Regions from separate parts of the Homo sapiens genome. Here region 2 is linked to region 1. Evidence: fine-mapped expression QTL. A gene starts in region 1. The other region holds a variant in brackets. All regions are shown on one strand. Distances are from middle to middle.

Evidence for each region. PIP is the estimated chance that this variant, and not a neighbour inherited with it, causes the effect.
Region 2: its variant is fine-mapped to the expression of AMT in whole blood (TOPMed, PIP 0.95).

What each region holds. Positions count from the first base shown.
Region 1 is chr3:49,417,612-49,425,611 of GRCh38, reverse strand. AMT (aminomethyltransferase) reads left to right here and starts at 3,139. Exons shown (of 9, transcript NM_000481.4): 1 at 3,139-3,251; 2 at 3,341-3,508; 3 at 4,040-4,120; 4 at 5,270-5,401; 5 at 5,824-5,902; 6 at 6,207-6,352; 7 at 6,461-6,641; 8 at 7,639-7,794; 9 at 7,894-8,000. The coding sequence starts at 3,162. It overlaps NICN1 (nicolin 1, tubulin polyglutamylase complex subunit), which reads left to right. Exons shown (of 6, transcript NM_032316.3): 4 at 174-245; 5 at 559-663; 6 at 738-3,279. The coding sequence ends at 779. RefSeq lists enhancers at 2,758-3,511, 3,512-4,264, 7,236-7,954.
Region 2 is chr3:49,331,920-49,344,383 of GRCh38, reverse strand. It overlaps USP4 (ubiquitin specific peptidase 4), which reads left to right and starts at 4,331. Exons shown (of 22, transcript NM_003363.4): 1 at 4,331-4,460; 2 at 8,788-8,915. The coding sequence starts at 4,360. RefSeq lists enhancers at 3,711-3,770, 3,861-4,030, 3,661-4,160 and a silencer at 4,201-4,390. The variant C/G (reference allele first, on the strand shown) is at 4,349.

The DNA of each region.
Region 1 (8,000 bases):
GCAGGAGAACTTAGGTAGTCTGACTGCCTCTTTAGGTCTCTGTGGGCTCCCTAAACAGGGTTTTCCCAGTGTCTGAGGCCCAGCGGCCCTTCTCTCTGCTCCTAGGACCTTGGAATCTGGTCCCAGAGCTGTCCACTTTGTCTCACTCAGGGCAGTACATCTTTGCTTTGCAGAGCCCCTCCGTGACCTTTCCCAAGTGGCTCTCCCACCCAGTGCCCTGTGAGCAACCTGCACTCCTCCGTGAGGTAAGCCCTCACCCTAGGTAAGAACCATGTGTGAATGGCTCTAGTGTCCAACACAGGCCAGGTAGACCCCTTCCTGTAAAATTCTGGGGCTGGGCCCAGGGCCCTTGGGTGTTATCTTCCTCCTGGGTATTCTGTGGGATTTGAGGCATCTCTGTTGTGGGGCTACATCAGGCCCTAACCTCATGTTTCATAAGCCATCTGAGAATGTTGTTGGTCTCAGCTGGAGGGCCCCTAGCCCAGGTTGGCCTCTCTGGAGCCTGAAGGGCACTGCTGGGGAGAGACCCATGGCCACTGACCCCTCCTTCTGGAGCAGGGTCTCCCAGACCCCAGCAGGGTATCCTCCGAGGTGCAGCAGATGTGGGCACTGACAGAGATGATCCGGGCCAGTCACACCTCCGCAAGGATCGGCCGCTTTGATGTAAGTAATCGCTTCCTTCTGCTTGGCTTGCTTTGCCCTGAGCAGATCAGACCTGATGGTCTTTTGTATTTCAGGTGGATGGCTGTTATGACCTGAACTTGCTCTCCTACACTTGAATGGTTGCTCCTAGCCAAGATGTTGGCCTTTCTGTGCCCACCCAGACTTGGTTTGGGCCACCAGAGGCTGAAGTGTATTTCCTGTGCATTCCAAGTGTTGCCTGCATGCCTGTTCTGTCTGGGCCACATTCACAGATTCAGGATTCTCAGGGGCTTACCGTGTTACTTCAGCATGAGCTCCTGGCATGGGGGTGCTCTGTCTTCGCCTGGCTGCAACTCAATTCTTCCTTCTACCCAAAAACACTCCAGTCAGTTGTACTTACTGAGAATCCCTGAGTGCCCTCTGCCCCTTCTGGCAACATGCACATTCCTGTCTTCTGCCTGCTCCCTCATGTCAGTGCAGTTGGGCTGGGCTGACCTACTAAAACCTGCTCCATGTATGGACCTGGAAGGCCATTGCTGCCATGGCACTTGGGACACTTGAGGAAGAAACAGAAACCTTATTTCTTCCTGTGTGTCCCCTAGTGGTTTTCTTTCCATTTGTGTTATGCCACAGAGAGAAATTTCCTGTCTGAACTCTTCTGCTGCCTGCCTAGGAAGGAAACCTGAAGATTTGGGCAGCCTGAGTCTCTTGGTTTCTGAGCTGGCTCCTGAATATATGTTCAAGTGGGTGTGCCCATAGGGCCTGGGCACGTGTCTCTAGCAAAACCAGGGCCTGAGCATAAGAACTGGGACCCTTCTAGGCAGGGTGCAGTGGCTCACGCCTGTAATCCCAGCACTTTGGGAGGCCCAGGCAGGCGGATCACCTGAGGTCAGGAGTTCAAGACCAGCCTGACCAACCTGGAGAAACCCCGTCTCTACTAAAAATACAAAAAATTAGCTGGGCGTGGTGGTAGGCACCTGTAATCCCAGCTACTTGGGAGGCTGAGGCAGGAGAATCTCTTGAACCCGGGAAGTGGAGGTTGCGGACCTGAGATCATGCCATTGCACTCCAGCCTGGGCAAGAAGAGCGAAACTCCATCTTAAACAAACAAACAAAAAAAAAAGAACTGGGACCCTTCTGCCATCTGACATAGCCCAAAGCACATCTCTATCCTTTCTCCCAGTTGCCCCTCTCCTTTTTTGTTGTTTTTTTTGAGGTTGAGTTTTGCTCTTGTTGCCCAGGCTGGAGTGCAATAGTGCAATCTTGGCTAACTGCAACCTCCGCCTCCCAGGTTCAAGCAATTCTCCTGCCTCAGTCTCCCGAGTAGCTGGGATTACAGTCATGCATCACCATGCCTGGCTAATTTTGTATTTGTAGTAGAGATGGGGTTTCTCCATGTTGGTCAGGCTGGTCTCAAACACCTGACCTCAGGTGATCTGCCTGCCTTGGCCTTCCAAAGTGCTGGGATTACAGGCATGAGCCACCGCGCCCGCCCTGCCCCTTTCCAAGAGATATGCTCAGCATAATGAGAGATCAACCGTGGTGGGGAGTGGGTCCAAGTAAGGGTTCTCATTGTTGCCTTTTAAGAGGCCTAAGTCCTGCATTAACTCAGTCCAACCATTAAGTGATGCAGGCTGCTCTTCCCTCATGTGAGAAAAACCTGTTTCCCTCTGGTTCTTCCTGGCTTTGCACCTGGTGGCTATTACAAAGCAGTACTGCAGTATGTCTTGGACCTGGAAAGTTGGACATGTGTGTGGCTCAACAGTTTTCTCGGGGGAGTTCAGTGACCTTTTGGTGGCCACCCTCTGTTCTCACCTGTGAGTTCTTGCAGGTGGCGACTTCATCTGCAAGGTCACTTACATAGCCCCACTCAGCTGCTTCGGAAAGCGTGACGAAGCAGTAGTCCTCAGTGTGTGTGTAAGTGAAGAGGACCTTGTGGTAGCAGGGACCATGCTTCATTCGTGGCTGTGTCCCCATCTGAGGGCCTGGTATGCAGTAAGATCAATAAATACTTGTGGAATGCATGACTGCTGGCTGCCTGTGTCTGCCTGGTGGGAGAGCTGTGGAACTAGGGGTCCACATGAGGACAGACTACTGTGGTGCTGCCTACCTGCCAGGCTGGCCCACCTTCCCCACCCCCACTTGACCTTACTCTCTTGAGGTCCTAAAGGTATGATTCAGACCTTTCAGCCCTTTCCAGAACTTTGACCCTCTGGAGACAGGGCGGTTCTGCAGGGGGCGGTCTAGCCCCTAGCTTTGTTCTGGGCAGCCCAATCAGCTCTGGATTGCCCGAGCTGCCCTGAAGAGTCAGCCGAAAGAGCTGGAGGCTTCTTCCCTGTGGTTGCGGGTTCCTGCATTCTCTGCTCTAAATCCCAGCCTGCCCTTGGGGCTGCCCACGCCCCCTTCAGATCCTTTGCTCCGGAGAGAGACCTGTCCGAGCAGAGGCCTGGACTACATCTCCCGGCGTGCCTGGCAGTGTGGTGGCCTCTGTGCGCCGTCTGCACTCGTTGCAGGCGACGATGCAGAGGGCTGTAAGTGTGGTGGCCCGTCTGGGCTTTCGCCTGCAGGCATTCCCCCCGGCCTTGTGTCGTCCACTTAGTTGCGCACAGGTGGGATAGAGGGTGCTGATCTTGGAGGGTGGGGGAGGGAAGCGGCTGGGGGCTAGGGCCCTGGTGGCACTAAGCCCAGCCGCCCACAGGAGGTGCTCCGCAGGACACCGCTCTATGACTTCCACCTGGCCCACGGCGGGAAAATGGTGGCGTTTGCGGGTTGGAGTCTGCCAGTGCAGTACCGGGACAGTCACACTGACTCGCACCTGCACACACGCCAGCACTGCTCGCTCTTTGACGTGTCTCATATGCTGCAGGTGAGCCAGGGGAGCACACTGGCCATCTGATCAGGCCTTCCTCCCTGTTTACAGTGGTCCACTCCTTGGCTTTGTTTGCTGTGAACTGGATTCCAAGGACAGCCTTCTCAGAAGAGCTAGAGGTCATGGGGGTGTCATGGATAGGTCAATGGCCCCAAGGAAATGAGCTCAGAGGGTCTCATCATCTCATCCTTCTAGCTTGCCCCCATTAAATGGTGTGCCTTAATGTCCCGGGTTTTCCAGGGCTGACACCCACTCTCATGTATTGGGCTGGATGTTGGTTTGAAAAGGGGTTATTTCAGGAAGGTGCTAGGTCCTGTCCAGTTCCCTGGCAGTCCCCCCACACAGAGTGACTGGGGGAGGTCAGGAAATCAGAAGGTGGTCCTTTGCCACGTGTAGAACCAAAAGACTGGTTAGTCACTTTGGGTGGGCTGGACTGCACTGTGGATGGCAGGGAGGATGCATCCTTGCTTAGTAGCCTTTTGGATTGTAGCTGTTGCAATGGCCTGAGGCTTTCAATCTCTTCCCCAGACCAAGATACTTGGTAGTGACCGGGTGAAGCTGATGGAGAGTCTAGTGGTTGGAGACATTGCAGAGCTAAGACCAAACCAGGTGGGCCCTTTTATTTCTGCTCTATGAGTTTTCTTAGTCATGAGCCAGCAAATGGGCTGAGTCCCTACCTCAGGCTTAGGGGCACAGAGATGAGTCAAACACAGCTTCTCAGGGCTTGCAGTCTTGGACAGAATCCCTGAGTCATTTCCAGAGACACAGACATTTGTAGGGAGGGGAATATCCCAGTCTTACTACATCAGGCTAGGAGGCCAGAAACCAAGGTTAATATGCTGCTCTCTGGCCATCCCTTCTGCTTAACCCCTCTCTATTCAACATGTGGTCCCTGGCCAGGCGACGTGACTCAAACACCTGTAATCCTGGCACTTGGGGAGGCCAAGGCGGGTGGATCACCTGAGGTCAGGAGTTCGAGACCAGCCTGGCCAACATGGCAAAACCTCGTTTCTACTAAAAACACAAAAATTAGCCGGGCGTGGTGGCGCGTGCTTGTAGTCCCAGCTACTCGGGAGGCTGAGGTTGCAGCAAGCTGAGGTTGCACCACTGCACTCTGGCCTGGGCAACAGAGTGAGACTCAGTCTAAAAAGAAAAATAACAACAACAAAGTGTGGTCTCTAAACCAGCATCTTTGGAGCTTGTTAGGAATATAGTCTCAGGCACTGCTGCAGACCTGCTGAATCAGAACCTTCATTTTAACAAGATCCCCAGGTGATTCATGTGACCCCCTCAACCTCAGGCTTTTTGTCCATCCAGTGGGGAGGCTAAGGAAGTTTTTTGGGGGCATTGCTATGGAGTACTTAGGAGAGCCTGCGATCATCAAGATGACCTTTGAAGCTTTTGTCCTGTGGGTTGCCACATGGGCTAAGTCGTCCCAGGTTTGGGTAGGTGAAGCAGCAGGTCCTAGGTGTCATAGATTAAGTGTCAGATGGGACTCTCAGTACAGAGTGGGGAGGGGTGCAGAGGTTGCACCAGATCAGGGAAGCACCCCAAGGTAGGGAGGGGATGAAAACTTACTTGATGCATGAGGATCAAAGACCTTGGACTTGGGCCCAGACTTGTACCTTGCACACCCTGAGTCCTTCACATTAGGGTTCATAACCTTTTGGTAACTAAGTGGGTCCAGGGTTGTGTCTGGCTCACCCTTGGCCTTGCCCTCCTGGACCTGGAAGCCAAAACGCTCCACTTTGGTCCTAGGGGACACTGTCGCTGTTTACCAACGAGGCTGGAGGCATCTTAGATGACTTGATTGTAACCAATACTTCTGAGGGCCACCTGTATGTGGTGTCCAACGCTGGCTGCTGGGAGAAAGATTTGGCCCTCATGCAGGTATACCCCCTCTGTGTTCTAGACACCTTGTCTTCCTTGTTCATAGAGCAGTATCCTTGTTGTCCAAGACAGGGTTGGCACAGACAAGGGACCTGGAAAATGGCTCTTTCAGTGAATGAACAGCTATGAGACTCAAGAGCAGGCCCTCTCTGGAGCACGCCAGGGTTTGGTGGTGGGGGATTACCAGGCATGGGGAGGGGGTCTTGGCCCCTCTGGTGTGAGGTGGCAGAACTGGGCTTGGGTCATCTCTATCACTTAGTAGCTATGTGACCTTGTAAGATGGGAACCAGCCTACTACCTTTTTTTTTCCTCCCTCCTCCTCCTCCTCTCCACTGTCCTACTACTGTCCAGCTCTGCAGCGTCCAGCCCATGGTAGCTGCTCAGTAAGTGGCCCCAGATGCTCTTGTGTTTCTGTCTTTTAGGACAAGGTCAGGGAGCTTCAGAACCAGGGCAGAGATGTGGGCCTGGAGGTGTTGGATAATGCCCTGCTAGCTCTGCAAGGTGAGAGGGCTGGGCTGGGGTTGGAGCCAACCTTTGCCTTCCTGGCTTCATTGACTGCTTAGCACAGAGGCCATACCAAGAAGAATGTGTGGAAGGTGTGATATTTGTGTGCCATAATTTTAAGTTTTGTATCTTGCCCTCCTCCTACCTACCACAAGGCTCCATGGGCTAGGGACAAGGGCATCTTCTCCCACTTGCAGAGTAAGACATGCTCAGGGCTTGTTCTGGTCCCTGAATAAGGCTTTAGTCCAGCTTTGAGGGATGCTGGGACCTGGATACTTGGTCACTGGCTCCCTGGGCCCAGGCCCCACTGCAGCCCAGGTACTACAGGCCGGCGTGGCAGATGACCTGAGGAAACTGCCCTTCATGACCAGTGCTGTGATGGAGGTGTTTGGCGTGTCTGGCTGCCGCGTGACCCGCTGTGGCTACACAGGAGAGGATGGTGTGGAGGTGTGTCAAGAAGTGGTGTGGGGGCAGTACAGGGCACAGGATGCATGTGAGGGGTTGGGGGTATGTGGTACAGGGAGCTTCCCATCTGCCCTCTGGTGTTTCATACAGATCTCGGTGCCGGTAGCGGGGGCAGTTCACCTGGCAACAGCTATTCTGAAAAACCCAGAGGTGAAGCTGGCAGGGCTGGCAGCCAGGGACAGCCTGCGCCTGGAGGCAGGCCTCTGCCTGTATGGGAATGACATTGATGAACACACTACACCTGTGGAGGGCAGCCTCAGTTGGACACTGGGTGAGCTGGGCCAGCACTAAAGGATAGGGTCCTGGAGGTCAGGGTGACCCTTGATAAGACTAGCCAGCCCATGACTCATCCAAAGGTTATGTAGCCTGAAGCCTTCCTGAGCCTCCCTTCCCTGAAGGTGCCACTGTGCCTTTGCCCATTAGAAACTGCAGATGTTGGCCGGATGCGGTGGCTCACATCTGTAATCCCAGCACTTTGGGAGGCCGAGGCGGGTGGATCACGAGGTCAGGAGATCAAGACCATCCTGGCTAACATGGTGAAACCCCGTCTCTACTAAAAATACAAAAAAAAAATTAGCTGGGCATTGTGGCGGGCGCCTGTAGTCCCAGCTACTCGGGAGGCTGAGGCAGGAGAATGGCATGAACCTGGGCGGCGGAGTTTGCAGTGAGCCGAGATTGCGCCACTGCACCTCCAGCCAGGGCGATAGAGCGAGACCCCGTCTCAAAAAAAAAAAAAAAAAAAAAAAAGAAACTGAAGATGCTGCCGGGCATGGTGGCTCACACCTGTAATCCCAGCACTTTGGGAGGCCAAGGTGGGTGGATCATGAGGTCAGGAATTCGAGAATAGCCTGGCCAACATGGTGAGACCCCGTCTCTACTGAAAATATAAAAATTAGCCAGGCGTGGTGGCGGGTGCCTGTTATCCCAGCTACTCGGGAGACTGAGGCAGGTAAATTGCTTGAACCTGGGAGGCAGAGTTTGCAGTGAGCTGAGATCGTGCCACTGCATTCTAGGCCTGGGCGACAGAGTGACTCCATCTCAAAAAAAAAAAAAAGAAACTGAAGACGCTCGGCAGGTGGGCAGCATGGCCTCCAGGGGATAGGAGGTGGTTGGTTGGCTGACGGCAGTGAAGGGAGGAATAGAGCCTGGAGTAGCCCAAGCAAAGGGGCCTTGATGCTAGATAGTGTGTTACTTGAGGACCTCATAAGGACCTCCTGTGGCCAGGGCTTCTATGGGCTGTGGCTTATGTCTCATGTGTCATTCTCCAGGGAAGCGCCGCCGAGCTGCTATGGACTTCCCTGGAGCCAAGGTCATTGTTCCCCAGCTGAAGGGCAGGGTGCAGCGGAGGCGTGTGGGGTTGATGTGTGAGGGGGCCCCCATGCGGGCACACAGTCCCATCCTGAACATGGAGGGTACCAAGATTGGTAGGTGGACCAGGGAAGCTGGGAAACCCTTGTCTCTTCCCAGGAGGGTGGGGGCACTGGCAGGGTGGTGCTGATGCGTGGCTTATGCTTGCTTGACAGGTACTGTGACTAGTGGCTGCCCCTCCCCCTCTCTGAAGAAGAATGTGGCGATGGGTTATGTGCCCTGCGAGTACAGTCGTCCAGGGACAATGCTGCTGGTAGAGGTG
Region 2 (12,464 bases), 83 kb after region 1:
GCACGATCCTGGCTCACCACAACCTCTGCCTCCCAGGTTCCAGCGATTTTCCTGCCTCAGCCTTCTGAGTAGCTGGGATTACAGGCCCATGCCACCACGCCCAGATAATTTTTGTATTTTTAGTAGAGATGGGGTTTCGCCATGTTGGTCAGGCTGGTCTCGAACTCCTGACCTCCTGATCCGACTGCCTTGGCCTCCTAAAGTGCTGGGATTACAGGCATGAGCCACTGCGCCCGGCCACCCCCACCATTTAAATCAAACAAACTGGCTAACAAAGTTTAAAGACTTTGTAAATAATGGTGACCTTGTAGTCCGGGCACGGTGGCGCATGACTGCAATCCCAGCACTTGGGAGGCGGAGGATCACTTGAGGCCAGGAGTTCAAGACCAGCCTGGGCAACATGGTGAAACTCCATCTATACTAAAAATATGAAAATTAGCTAGGTATGGTGATGCAGACCAGTAGTCTGGTTAGCTAGGCATGGTGATGCAGACCAGTAGTCCCAGCTATTTGGGAGGCTGAGGTAGGAGGATCACTTGAGCCCAATAGGTCGAGGCTGCAAGTGAGCCATGATTATACCACTGCACTTTAGCCTGGGCAACAAAGACTCTGTCTCAAAAAAAAAAAAAAAAAAAAAAAAGGTGATCTTCCAACTATGGAATTCACTTTATTCTTCACATTTCAACTACCAGCATTTTGTAATCTTTTATTTATTTATTTTTCTTTTTTTCCCTCCAAATACCCAGATATCAAGAAGAATATTTTGCAATCCTAATATTAATTTTTAAGGGCTACCAATAATTAGTGCGCTATTTTTATAGCTATTAAAAGCACTAAATTCCTGACTTAAAAATATTGTCCAAATTTTTCATTTTTATAATTAGGTTTTGTCCCCTTTTCTAGTGGTGCTGAGGACTTGTCCTACTTGTCTTCCTTAAGACTGCCATAAATGGTTTGGTGAAACTGCTAAAAAAAGAAGAGGGAAGCAGACACCCTGAAATGTAGATTCTGAACCGATGTCAGTAACCAACTTTTTTTTTTTTTTGAGACAGAGTCTCTCTCTGTCACCCAGCCTGGAGTGCAGTAGTGCGATCTTGACTCACTGCTACCTCCATCTCCCAGTTTCAAGTGATTCTCCTACCTTAGCCTCCTGAGTAGCTGGGATTACAGGTGCTCGCCACCATGCCCAATTAATTTTTGCATTTTTAGTAGAGACAGGGTTTCACCACATTGGCCAGGCTGGTCTCGAACTCCTGACCTCAGGCGATCCGCCTGCCTTGGCTTTCCAAAGCCAAAGTGCTGGGATTACAGGCGTGAGCCACCACGCCTGGCCTCAACTTTCTTTTTCCATAAATAACAGGACTAAAGGTAGTGTTTCTTTTTTGATAACATTTTTAAGAGTTTCAGCCGGGCACGGTGCCTCACACCTTTAATCCCAGCACTTTGGGAGGCTGAGGCCAGTGGATCATGAGGTCAGGAGTTTGAGACCAGCCTGCCCAACATGGTGAAACCCCATCTCTACTAAAAATACAAAAATTAGCCAGGCGTGGTGGCGCACACCTGTAATTCTAGCTACTCAGGAGGCTGAGGCAGGAGAATCGCTTGATCCAGGGAGGCAGAGGTTGCAGTGAGCTGAGATTGCCCCACTGCACTCCAGCCTGGGGGACCCAGCAAGACTCCATCTCAGAAAAAACAACAAAACAAAACAAAACAAAAACGAGTTTCAAAGAACTTTCATAGAAGGGGACTTGTTAGGGTTGGCTCTGCAGATGTAGAATCATCATGTGGTGGTGGTAACTCTTATCTACAGGGGATTAATTACTATGTGGTTATTTAAGGCAGTTTTAATTCCATATTTACTTTCTCCTACTATCTACCCAATTGCCAAGAGGCCTTTCTTATCAGATGGTGTGTGATGGATGACCCAGGGAGTGCAAATTAATTTCAATTGGCCAAACCCAACATAAAAATAGTAAATCTGTTCAAATGACCTACCGTATTTTCACTGGGCCAGTTCCCCTTCCTTCACCCCCGACACAAAACATAGCTCATCTTTTCAACAGGAATAGGTAGAAAAATAAGAATAATAAAATAAAATAGACATGGCTTCTCTGTTTCTCCTCTTCTCCCTCACAGCCACCTCCATAGTGAGAGGTTCCTAATGGTTCTGTGTCTGAGTTACACCACCGTGGGCGTGAAGCACCCTCAGCCATTTTGTCTCTGCTTCAAAACTTCCTATAATGCCTGCCTGCCTTTTAAGGCAGGATATATGGTCTGTCTGGCCTCCTTTCTAGCTTTAGATCCCCTTAGGCTGTTGTAGCGTTGTAGTGCCCGCCTCAACTGGCCTAATCCCCACTCTCTGATCCTGTCCTGCCTTTTCCAGAAATTATCTTCTGGTCCCTTGAGTCTCCCCTCCTGTAACATGCATCCTCATCTTTATTCTGCCAGCATTTTTTTTCAATACCACACTCAAATGTTACTCAAGTCAAAGGCTTCCTATGAGAGCAGGGGTTGTGCCTGGCGTTCTACAGCCTTTGGTTCACACCCCCTTTTTTTTTTAGAGGGGGTCTTGCTCTGTTGCCCAGGCTGGAGTGCAGTGGCGCAATCTCGGCTCACTGCAACCTCTGCCTCCCAGGTTCAAGCGATTCTTCTGCCTTAGCCTCCCGAGTAGCTGAGACTAGGTGTGGGCCACCACTAACGGCTAATTTTTTTTTTTTTTTTTGTATTTTTAGTAGAGAAGGGGTTTCACCATATTAGCCACGCTGGTCTCGAACTCCTAACCTCGTGATCTGCCCGCCTCGGCCTCCCAAAGTCCTAGGATTACAAACATGAACCACCGCGCCGGACGCCCGGTCTTTTTTTTTTTTTTTTTTTAAGACATTTCGGTCTCCACGTTGGTCAGGCTGGTCTCGAATGCCCGACCTCAGGTGATCCTCCTGCCTCGGCCTCCCAAAGTGCTGGGATTACAGGTGTGAGCCACCGCGCCCGGCCGGTTCACACCCTTTATTTGTATTTATTTTTTTTTTTTTGAGACAGGGTCTCACTTTGCCGTCCAGTCTCAAGTGCAGTGGCGCCATCTCGACTCACTGCAACCTCGACCTCCTGGGCTCAAGGGATCTTCCTACCTCAGCCTCCCAAGTACCTGGGACCACAGACGCGAGCCACTGCCCGGCTATTTTTTGTATTTTTTTGTAGAGACGGGATTTCGCTATGTTGCCGAGGTTGGTCTCTAACTCCTGGGCTGAACCTATCCTTCCGCCTCAGCCTCCCAAAGTGCTGGGACGACAGGCTTGAACCACCGCGCCCGGCCTGGTTCACACACTTTAATGGCACTTACCACATACTGCTAGGCATTGAGGTTATTTCTGTAACATCTCTTCTTTTCTACTAGATTCTATGAGGGCAGGAACTAGGTCTTATTTTTCTCTGAGGACAAGGACTGTTAGACAAGTGTATGGAGACGCATCTAGACCAACTGCCTGACTTCCTCTTTCCTCTGGGTTTACTTCTCCCTCCAAGAGGAGGGTTGTGTGTGTGAGCGGGGCGACTGGAAAACATAGTGTTCAGGACGTTGTATCTTGTTCCAGGAACTAAGTACACGCCTGGGTAACTAATGTGGAGTACCTCTCCTTCCCCTGTTGCTATCGCCCCTCTGTGGCTGCTTGGCAAGTAGCTCAGTATGAAGAGCTGACGGAATTCTGCGGTGGGCCAGGTGGCTCTGGCGTCGACTGTTTAAGGCGACTGTTAATGACTACAACACACCATTGAGTCTTGGTCCCAAGGCGCTGGTGCACATGGTACTTCCCGAAATCCCTGTAGGGCCGCTGGAGCAGGAGCCCCGATCCCACGTTTGGGCAGCTGACTCGCCTAAGGCCTCCAGCTGAAAGCGGAATTGCAGGGGTGAGAATGAGCAGACCTAACTACCGGGCTTCTCGCACCTGGCCTGCATTTATTTAGGACCACGATAACCTCGAAGGCCAGGCTGGGGTGCCCGATGGGTCGTGGGCTTGCTGCCTAACTCCCTGAGATCGGCGGGCTGAACAGAGCTTCGAAGTGTAGCGCCATCCTGAGCAGAGGAAGGGGCGCCCGAAGGCCGCGTAGCGGGCGGCAGGGCGGGAGGAAGTAGCAGCTGCTGCTCCCCGCCCACCCCTCTCGCGTGTGCCTTTCCGCTCCACTGTTCGCCGGTGAGCTAGGTGGCGCGAGAGCGGAGGGGAGAAAAGACAGCGGCTGCAGGAGCCGAAGGCCGCGGCTCGAGGTGGGGCAGGGGCGGGCACGCGAGCGTGCGTGCGTGGGCGCGGTCTATAGCACGCCGCGCGCGGGGCGGATGTCCGGGCCGGCTGGGCCGGGG[C/G]CGCGGAGGAGATGGCGGAAGGTGGAGGCTGCCGTGAGCGACCGGATGCGGAGACTCAGAAGTCCGAGCTTGGACCCTTAATGAGGACCACACTCCAACGCGGGGCGCAGTGGTGAGCTCCCGGCTCGCTCTTCCTCTATGCAGAACCAGGGGCCGAGAAAAAGGGGCCTCCTTTTTCTCGGCTAGAGTAGGGGCTGGGCGGGGATGGTATGTAGTGACCCTGGAAGAGTAGCCTGACACCTGCCCCTCAGGAGAATAACTCCAGGATCAGCTCTGGGAAAGCGCAGGCGGGGCCTGAGTGTCGTCTCAGTTCATTTGGAGCCCTAGGGGGCGGGCCCGGCGGGGGCCAGGAGGAGGGATGTGGAGAAGGGGAAGGTTGGTGGGGACCCTAAGGGTGGGGAGAGCCCTTTACCATGAGGACTCGCCGTGTGACCTTGGGCGAAGGTGTCACAGACCTGGATTCCTCACTGTTAAAACCAGGATAGCAATATTTGGCTCACCGACCTCAGTGGGTTGAGGGGAAAATCAGAAGTAGATACTTTGTAACTTGTAAACTGCCAACAGATGTCAAGGTCAGAAGCTGAACAAATGTCTGAGAACCCCGATTATTTTGGTAGCAAGTGTCAAAAATATTTGCGGCAGCAGTGTCTTGGAGTGGGAGAGGAGGATAGCCTAGGTCCTGGAGCTAGATAGAAGATGAAGGGTCCAGAATTTAGAAGACCCAGGCTGAGTTATTAGGCATCTTAATAGATTGTTTAGTAGAGGGGACAATACTTTGTACTACTGGAGAGATTCCTGGGTGGTGTAATTGTGTAGGAGTAGAAAAACTAAGGCTAGACTTTGCATCGAGTATGATTGTTACCCATCTTGTTTGTTTTGTTTTGTTTTGAGATGGAGTTTCACTCTTGTTGCCCAAGCTGGAGTGCAGTGGCGTGATCTTGGCTCACGGCAACCTCCGCCTCCCGGGTTCAAGCGATTCTCCTGCCTCAGCCTCCCGAGTAGCTGGGATTACAGGCTCACGCCACCACACCCAGCTAATTTTTTGTATTTTTAGTAGAGACCGGGTTTCACCATGTTGGGTAGGCTGGTCTCAAACTCTTGACCTTATGATCCACCCGCCTCGGCCTCCCAAAGTGCTGGGATTACAGGTGGGAGCCACCGTGCTCGGCCCGAGTGTTACCTATCTTTAAGAAATCATTGTGGTGATGATCTGCCGAGGAATTGAGCAGGAGAATAGAAAAATTGGGGTTAGGAGGAGTACAGATAACAGCTTATGTATTCACCTTGAGCTAACCAGTTTGTGAAAGGCAGGGTAAACAGAGGTACTTTTTTTGTGTTTTCTTTTCTTTTCTTTTCTTTTTTTTTTTTTTTTTGAGAAGGAATTTCGCTCTTGTTGCCCATGCTGGAGGGCAATGGCGCGATCTCGGGTCACGGCAACCTCCCCCTCCCATGTTCAAGCGATTCTCCTGCCTCAGCCTCCCCAGTAGCTAGGATTACAGGCATGCGCCACCACGGCCGGCTAATTTTTTTTGTATTTTTAGTAGAGACGGGGTTTCTCCATTTTGGTCAGGCTGGTCTCGAATTCCAGATCTCAGGTGATCGCCCGCTGTGGCCTCCCAAAGTGCTGGGATTACAGGCGGAAGCTACTGCGCCCGGCCTAGCAGAGGTACTTTTTAAGTTAACCTCTATAGGGTTCATAAAGAATACTCAGCAGAAGTAGAGGAAGTTTAAGATAGACTAAAATCATACAGTAAAATTGTATGGAAGGTATTGCTCAAGGGATTTGGAAGAAAAATAGCATTTTAGAGATGGATGTGTTTATGGATCCTTGTGACCTCTGGGAAGCTGCCTGACCTCCTCTCACATTTGTTGGTTATAAAATTTTAAGGATGCACCAATATAATTGTTGATGCTTTGTTGCTCCACAGAGATTGTTTTAATTGTAAAACAGCATAGAGATACTTTTTTTTTTTTTTTTTTTTTTTTTTTTTGAGACGAAGTCTCGCTGCATCACCAGGCTGGAGTGCAGTGGCGCGATCTCGGCTCACTGCAATCTCTGCCTCCCGGGTTCAAGCGATTCTCCTGCTTCAGCCTCCCGAGTAGCTGGGATTATAGGCATGCACCACCATGCCCCGCTAATGTTTGTATTTTTAGTAGAGACAGGGTTTCACCATGTTGGCCAGGATGGTCTCGATCTCCTGACCTCGTGATCCACCTGACTCAGCCTCCCAAAGTGCTGGGATTACAGGCGTGAGCCACCGCTCCCGGCCAGCACAGTGATACTTTAAAAATATAAACAGGTCTGGTGCAGTGGCTCATGCCTGTAATCCCAGCACTTTGGGAAGCTGAGGCAGGAGGATCACTTGAGGCCAGGAGTTCAAGACCAGCCTGGGCAACATAGCAAGAGCTAGCCTCTACAAAATAAAAATAAAAAAATAAATTAGCCAGGCATGGTGGTATGTGCCTATAGTCACAGCTACTCAGAGGCTGAGGCAGGAGGATCACTTGAGCCCAGGAGTTTGAGGCTACAGAGAGCTATGATTGTGCCACTGCACTCTAGCCTGGGTGACCCTCTCTCTAAGGAAATAAATAGGTAAATAAAATACCACATTTGCTTACATTTAAGTAAAAAAGTGGTAAGTTGAATATGAAGCACAAATTAATGCTTTTTGACAAGATGAACAATAGGCACTATTATATGTACATGTGTATGTGTATATTTATATATGTACACGCATGTTATGTACTTTTTTTTTTTTGACAGGGTTTTATTCCTGTCACCCAGGCTAGAGTGCAATGGCATGATCTCAGCTCACTGCAACTTCTGTCTTCCGGGTGCAAGTGATTCTTGTGCCTCAGCCTCCCGAGCAGCTGGGACTACAGGCATGTGCCACCACGCTCAGCTAATTTTTGTAATTTTAGTAGAGATGGGGTTTGTTGCCCAGGCTGGTCTTGAACTCCTGAGCTCAAGTGACCATCCACCTCGGCCTCTCAAAGTGCTGGGATTACAGGTGTGAGCCACTGCGCCTGGCCTTGTGTGTACATTTTTGGAACTCCTTTGGTCCTTAAAGGAAAACTGAAGTGGGTGGTGTTTCTAACCCATTTTCAGAAAGAGCATTAGTTTAGTGCTGTTCATGTCAAGCAAAACAGTGTAACCAAACTGTCTGCCTGGAGTGGGACTTCTGTAAAGATCATTATGAAATTAATGACTTGTGGCCGGGTGCGGTGGCTCACGCCTGTAATCACAGCACTTTGGGAGGCCGAGGTGGGCAGATTACCTGAGGTAGGGAGTTTGAGACTGTCCTGACCAACATGGAGAAACCCTGTCTCTACTAAAAATACAAAATTAGCCAGGTGTGGTGGCACACACCTGTAATCCCAGCTACGGGAGACTGAGGCAGGAGAATCACTTGAACCCGGGAGGCGGAGGTTGCGGAGAGCCGAGATCACACCATTGCACTCCAGCCTGGGTAACAAGAGCGAAACTCTGTCTCAAAAAAAAAAGAAGTTAATGACTTGTTTATTAGCAAACATGATTTTACCCATGAAAAGACTCCATTTAGACTGAGTGTGGTAGCTCATGCATGTAATCACAGCACTTTGGGAGGCCAAGGCAGGAGGATCACCTGAGATCAGGAGTTCGAGACCAGCCTGGCCAACATGGTGAAACTCCATCTCTACTAAAAATACAAAAAAATTAGCTGGGCCTGGTGATGCATGCCTGTAATCCCAGCTACTTGGGAGGCTGAGGCAGGAGAATTGCTTGAACCCAGGAGGTGGAGGTTGTAGTGAGCCAAGATCATACCACTGCACTCCAGCTTGGGCAACAAGAGCGAAAACTCCGTCTCAAAAAAAAAAAAAAAAAAAAAAGAGGCCAGGTGCAGTGGCTCATGCCTGTAATCCCAGCACTTTGGGAGGCCGAAGTAGGCGGATCACCTGAGGTCAGGAGTTTGAGACCAGCCTGCCCAACATGGTGAAACCCCGTCTCTACTAAAAATACAAAAATTAGCTGGGAGTGGTGACAGGTGCCTGTAATCCCAGTTAGTCAGGAGGCTGAGGCAGGAGAATCGCTTGAACCTGGGAGGCAGAGGTTGCAGTGAGCCAAGATTGTGTCACTATACTCCAGCCTGGGCGACAGAACAAGACTCCGTCTAAAAGAAAAAAAAAGAAAGACTGCATTTAAATAAGCATTTTGAAACCACTTGTTTTCTTTCTTTTATTCACTCTTTGAACAATCATTTCACTTAATGGATGCATACCCTGGGCCAGACTCTCTGTGCCATGTGGGGCCTGGGCCCTGCTCTTGCTCTTGTGACAGTGTTTTTTAGTGGGTATTGCATATGCCCCAAGTGGAAGGACCATAAAAAAGATTAAGGAAGCAGCTGCAGAAATTTATAATCTCAGCTTTTCTGCTACAGTAAATTTCTGTCTCTCTCTAGGTATCTTATTGACAGCCGGTGGTTCAAGCAGTGGAAGAAGTATGTGGGCTTTGACAGCTGGGACATGTACAATGTGGGTGAACATAACCTATTTCCTGGCCCAATAGACAACTCTGGGCTATTTTCAGGTATAGTAAATGTTGCTTTTCTAGCTAAACATTCACCTGGGCAGTGGCCTGATGTTATGTGCATCTGTAACATGGACGTTGTGAACTTTCCTAGTGTGAGGAGATAGAAACAAGTATCCTCATTTTGCATCTATAGCAGAAGTCTTTGCAAACCCTTAATGAGAAGTTAAGCTACTTTTTTCCCTTAAATTAACTGCATCTGATAAGAGTATGCTTCTAACATTTTAACTTTCTCTCTTTGCAAATTAGTTCTGCTAGCTATTTCACATTTTAAGTTAGTATATGGAATGGAAAGAAATAGGATGTCATTTTGAAATTGTATCTAAAATTTAAGAACCAGAATTTTTTGTTACCTTTGCAGTGGAACAAATTGTAAACCTGTGAACTTTCATCAAGAATTCCTGTGATGGCTGTTTTTATCATATAACTAGTGTGAGGAGAGGTTGAAGGTCAGTAGACAGAGTTATGACTGTAGTCAGCTCCCAATGGGAACTGTGGGAAAAGCGACATGTAACACACTAGAGCTTGCTTGCACTTGTACATGCACTGAGATGACAGAGTCAGCTTTTCCCAGGCTTTCTTTTGCCTGACTTCAGACCTCTTTAAAGTCATGATAGAGGTGATCTGTCATGGGTGTCAAAAATCAGGGCAGTGCCAGGAGTGGTGTCTCACGCCTGTAATCTCAGCACTTTGGGAGGCCAAGGCAGGTGGATCACCTGAGGTCAGGAGTTCGAGACCAGCCTGGCCAACATGGTGAAACCCCGTCTCTACCATGTTGGCTAGGCTGGCCTTGAGCTCCTGGGCTCAAGCTATCTTCCTGCCTCAGCCTCCTTAGTCACTGAGACTACAGTGTTCTACCACTCTCAGCTGTTTTTTAAGTTTTTTGGTAGAGACGGGGTCTTGCTATGTTGCCCAGGCTGGTTGAACTCCTGGCCTCAAGCCATCCTCCCACCTTGGCTTCCCAGAGTGTTGGTGTGAGCCACTGTGCCTGGCCTAACTTGGATATTTTTAAAACTGAGCAATGCTTCAGCTCAGACCTTGTTTTAGGAGAGGTCTACATGGTATAAACAATATCATTTACTTTGTTTCCTGAAATAGGTCAAATGGTGGCACTATGCCACGAAGTTGCCCTAAGGAATCATTTCATTATGTTCACATTTTGTTCTTTTTCTCATTTTTATGAAATGGAGAATTCTTAAGGTTTTAAATTCAGGCATACTTTGGCTTATTGTGCTTTGCTTTATTATATGTTGCAGATACTGCATTTTTAGCAAATTTTGTAGGTATTTGGCAACGCTGCCTTGACAATCTGTCAGTTCCATTTTTACAACAGCATGTGCTCACTTCATGTCTCTGTTACCACATTTTGGTAATTCTCAAAATACTTCAAAGTTTTTCATTATTATTTGTTATGGTGATCAGTGATCAGGGAGCTTTCTTTTTTTTTTTGAGACGGAGTTTTGCTCTTGTTGCCCAGGCAGGAGTGCAGTGGCATGATCGTGGCTCATGGCAACCTCCACCTCTTGGGTTCAAGTGATTCTCCTGCCTCAGCCTCCCGAGTAGCTAGGATTACAGGCATGTGCCACCACGCCCGGCTAATTTTGTATTTTTAGTAGAGATGGGGTTTCTCCATGTTGGTCAGGCTGGTCTTGAACTCCCGACCTCAGCCTCCCAAAGTGCTGGGATTACAGGCATGAGCCACCATGCCCAGCCAACAGGGATCTTTCATGTTGCTATTGTAATTGTTTTGGGGCATCATGAAGGGAGCCCATGTAAGACAGTGAACTTAATTGGTAATTATTGTGTGTATTCTCGCTGCTTCACCAACCAGCCATTCCATCTCTCTCTCTCTCCTCAGGCTTTGCTATTGCCTGAGACACAATGACACTGAAATTCGGCCACTTAGTAACCCTAACAACGTCTTCTAAATGTTCAAGTGAAAAGGAGAATTGCATGTCTCTCACTTCAAATCAAAGCTAGAAATGATTTGAGTTTGGTTAAGGAAGCCGAAATAGGTTGTAAGCTAGGCCTCTTGTGCCATATAGCTAGCCAAGTTGTGAATGTAAATGTAAACCTCCTGGACTTAAGTGATCCTTCCACCTCAGCCTCCTGAGTAGCTAGGACTACAGGTGCTTGCCAGCATTCCTGGCTCATTTTTGTATGTGTTTATTTTTTCTTTTTGTAGAGATGGAGTTTTGTCATGTTGCCTGGGAGATGGAGGAACCCAGGAAATGGTGGTTTCAGTGAGCTGAGATTGCGCCACTGCACTCCACTCCAGCTTGGGCGACAGAAGTGAGACTCCATCTCAAAAAAAAAAAAAAAAAGTGCTACTCTAGTGAACACATGAATTATAAGAGGCTGAAACAGCCTTATTATTGCTGATATGGAGAAAGTTTATTCATTTATTTTTTTTTTTGAGACAAGGTGCCATCTTGTCTCAAAAAAAAAAAAGGTAGCTACTGCTACCTCGTGCAGTAGCACAATCACACCTCACTACAACCTTGACCTTCCCAGGCTCAGGTGATCCTCCCATCTCAGCCTCCTGAGTAACTGGAACTACAGGCCCCACCACACTCGACTAATTATTGTATTTTTTGCAGAGATTTTTTGTGGGTTTTGTCATGTTGTTCAGGTTGATCTTGAATTCCTGGGCTCAAGCAATCCTCCCGCCTTGACGTCCCAGAGTGCTGGGATTACAGGTGTGAGTCACTGTGCCCAGGCTAAACAACAGGTTTTATTTTATTTTATTTTTATTTATTATTATTATTTTTTTGAGACAGAGTCTCACCATGGGGTTTCACCATGTTGGCCAGGCTGGTCTCAAACTCCTGACCTTAAGTGATCCGCCTGCCTCGGCCTCTCAAAGTGCTGGGATTACAAGCATGAGCTACTGTGCCTGGCCTAAACAACAGATTTTAAATGTAGACAAAACACCCTTCTATTGGGAAGATGCCATCTACCTCTTTGCTGCTAGAGGGGAAAAGTCAGTGCCTGGGTTCAGAGCCTTTTTTTTTTTTGAGACAGGGTCTTGCCCTGTCACCCAGGCTGTAGTGTGTGATCACAGCTCACTGCAGCCTTAACCTCCTGGGCTCAAGTGATCCTCCCACCTCAGCCTCCTGAGTAGCTAGGACTACAGTTGCTTGCCACCATGCCTGGCTGATTTTTATATGTTTGTTTGTTTGTTTGTTTTGTAAGACAGAGTCTCGCTCTGTCGTCTAGGCTGAAGTGCAATGGCACAATCTTGGCTCACTGCAACCTCCACCTCCCAGTTTCAAGTGATTCTCCTGCCTCAGCCTCCCAAGTAGCTGGGATTACAGGTACCTGCCACCACACCCAGCTAATTTTTTTTTGTATTTTTAGTAAAGACGGGATTTCAGCACGTTGGCCAGCCTGGTCTCGAACTCCTGACCTCAGGTGGTCCACCCGCCTTGACCTCCCAAAGTGCTGGAATTACAGGTGTGAGCCACTGTGCCCAGCTTTGTATTTTTTTTTTTTTTTTGTAGAGATGGGATTTTGCCGTGTTGCCCGGGCTGGTCTCCAACTCCTGGG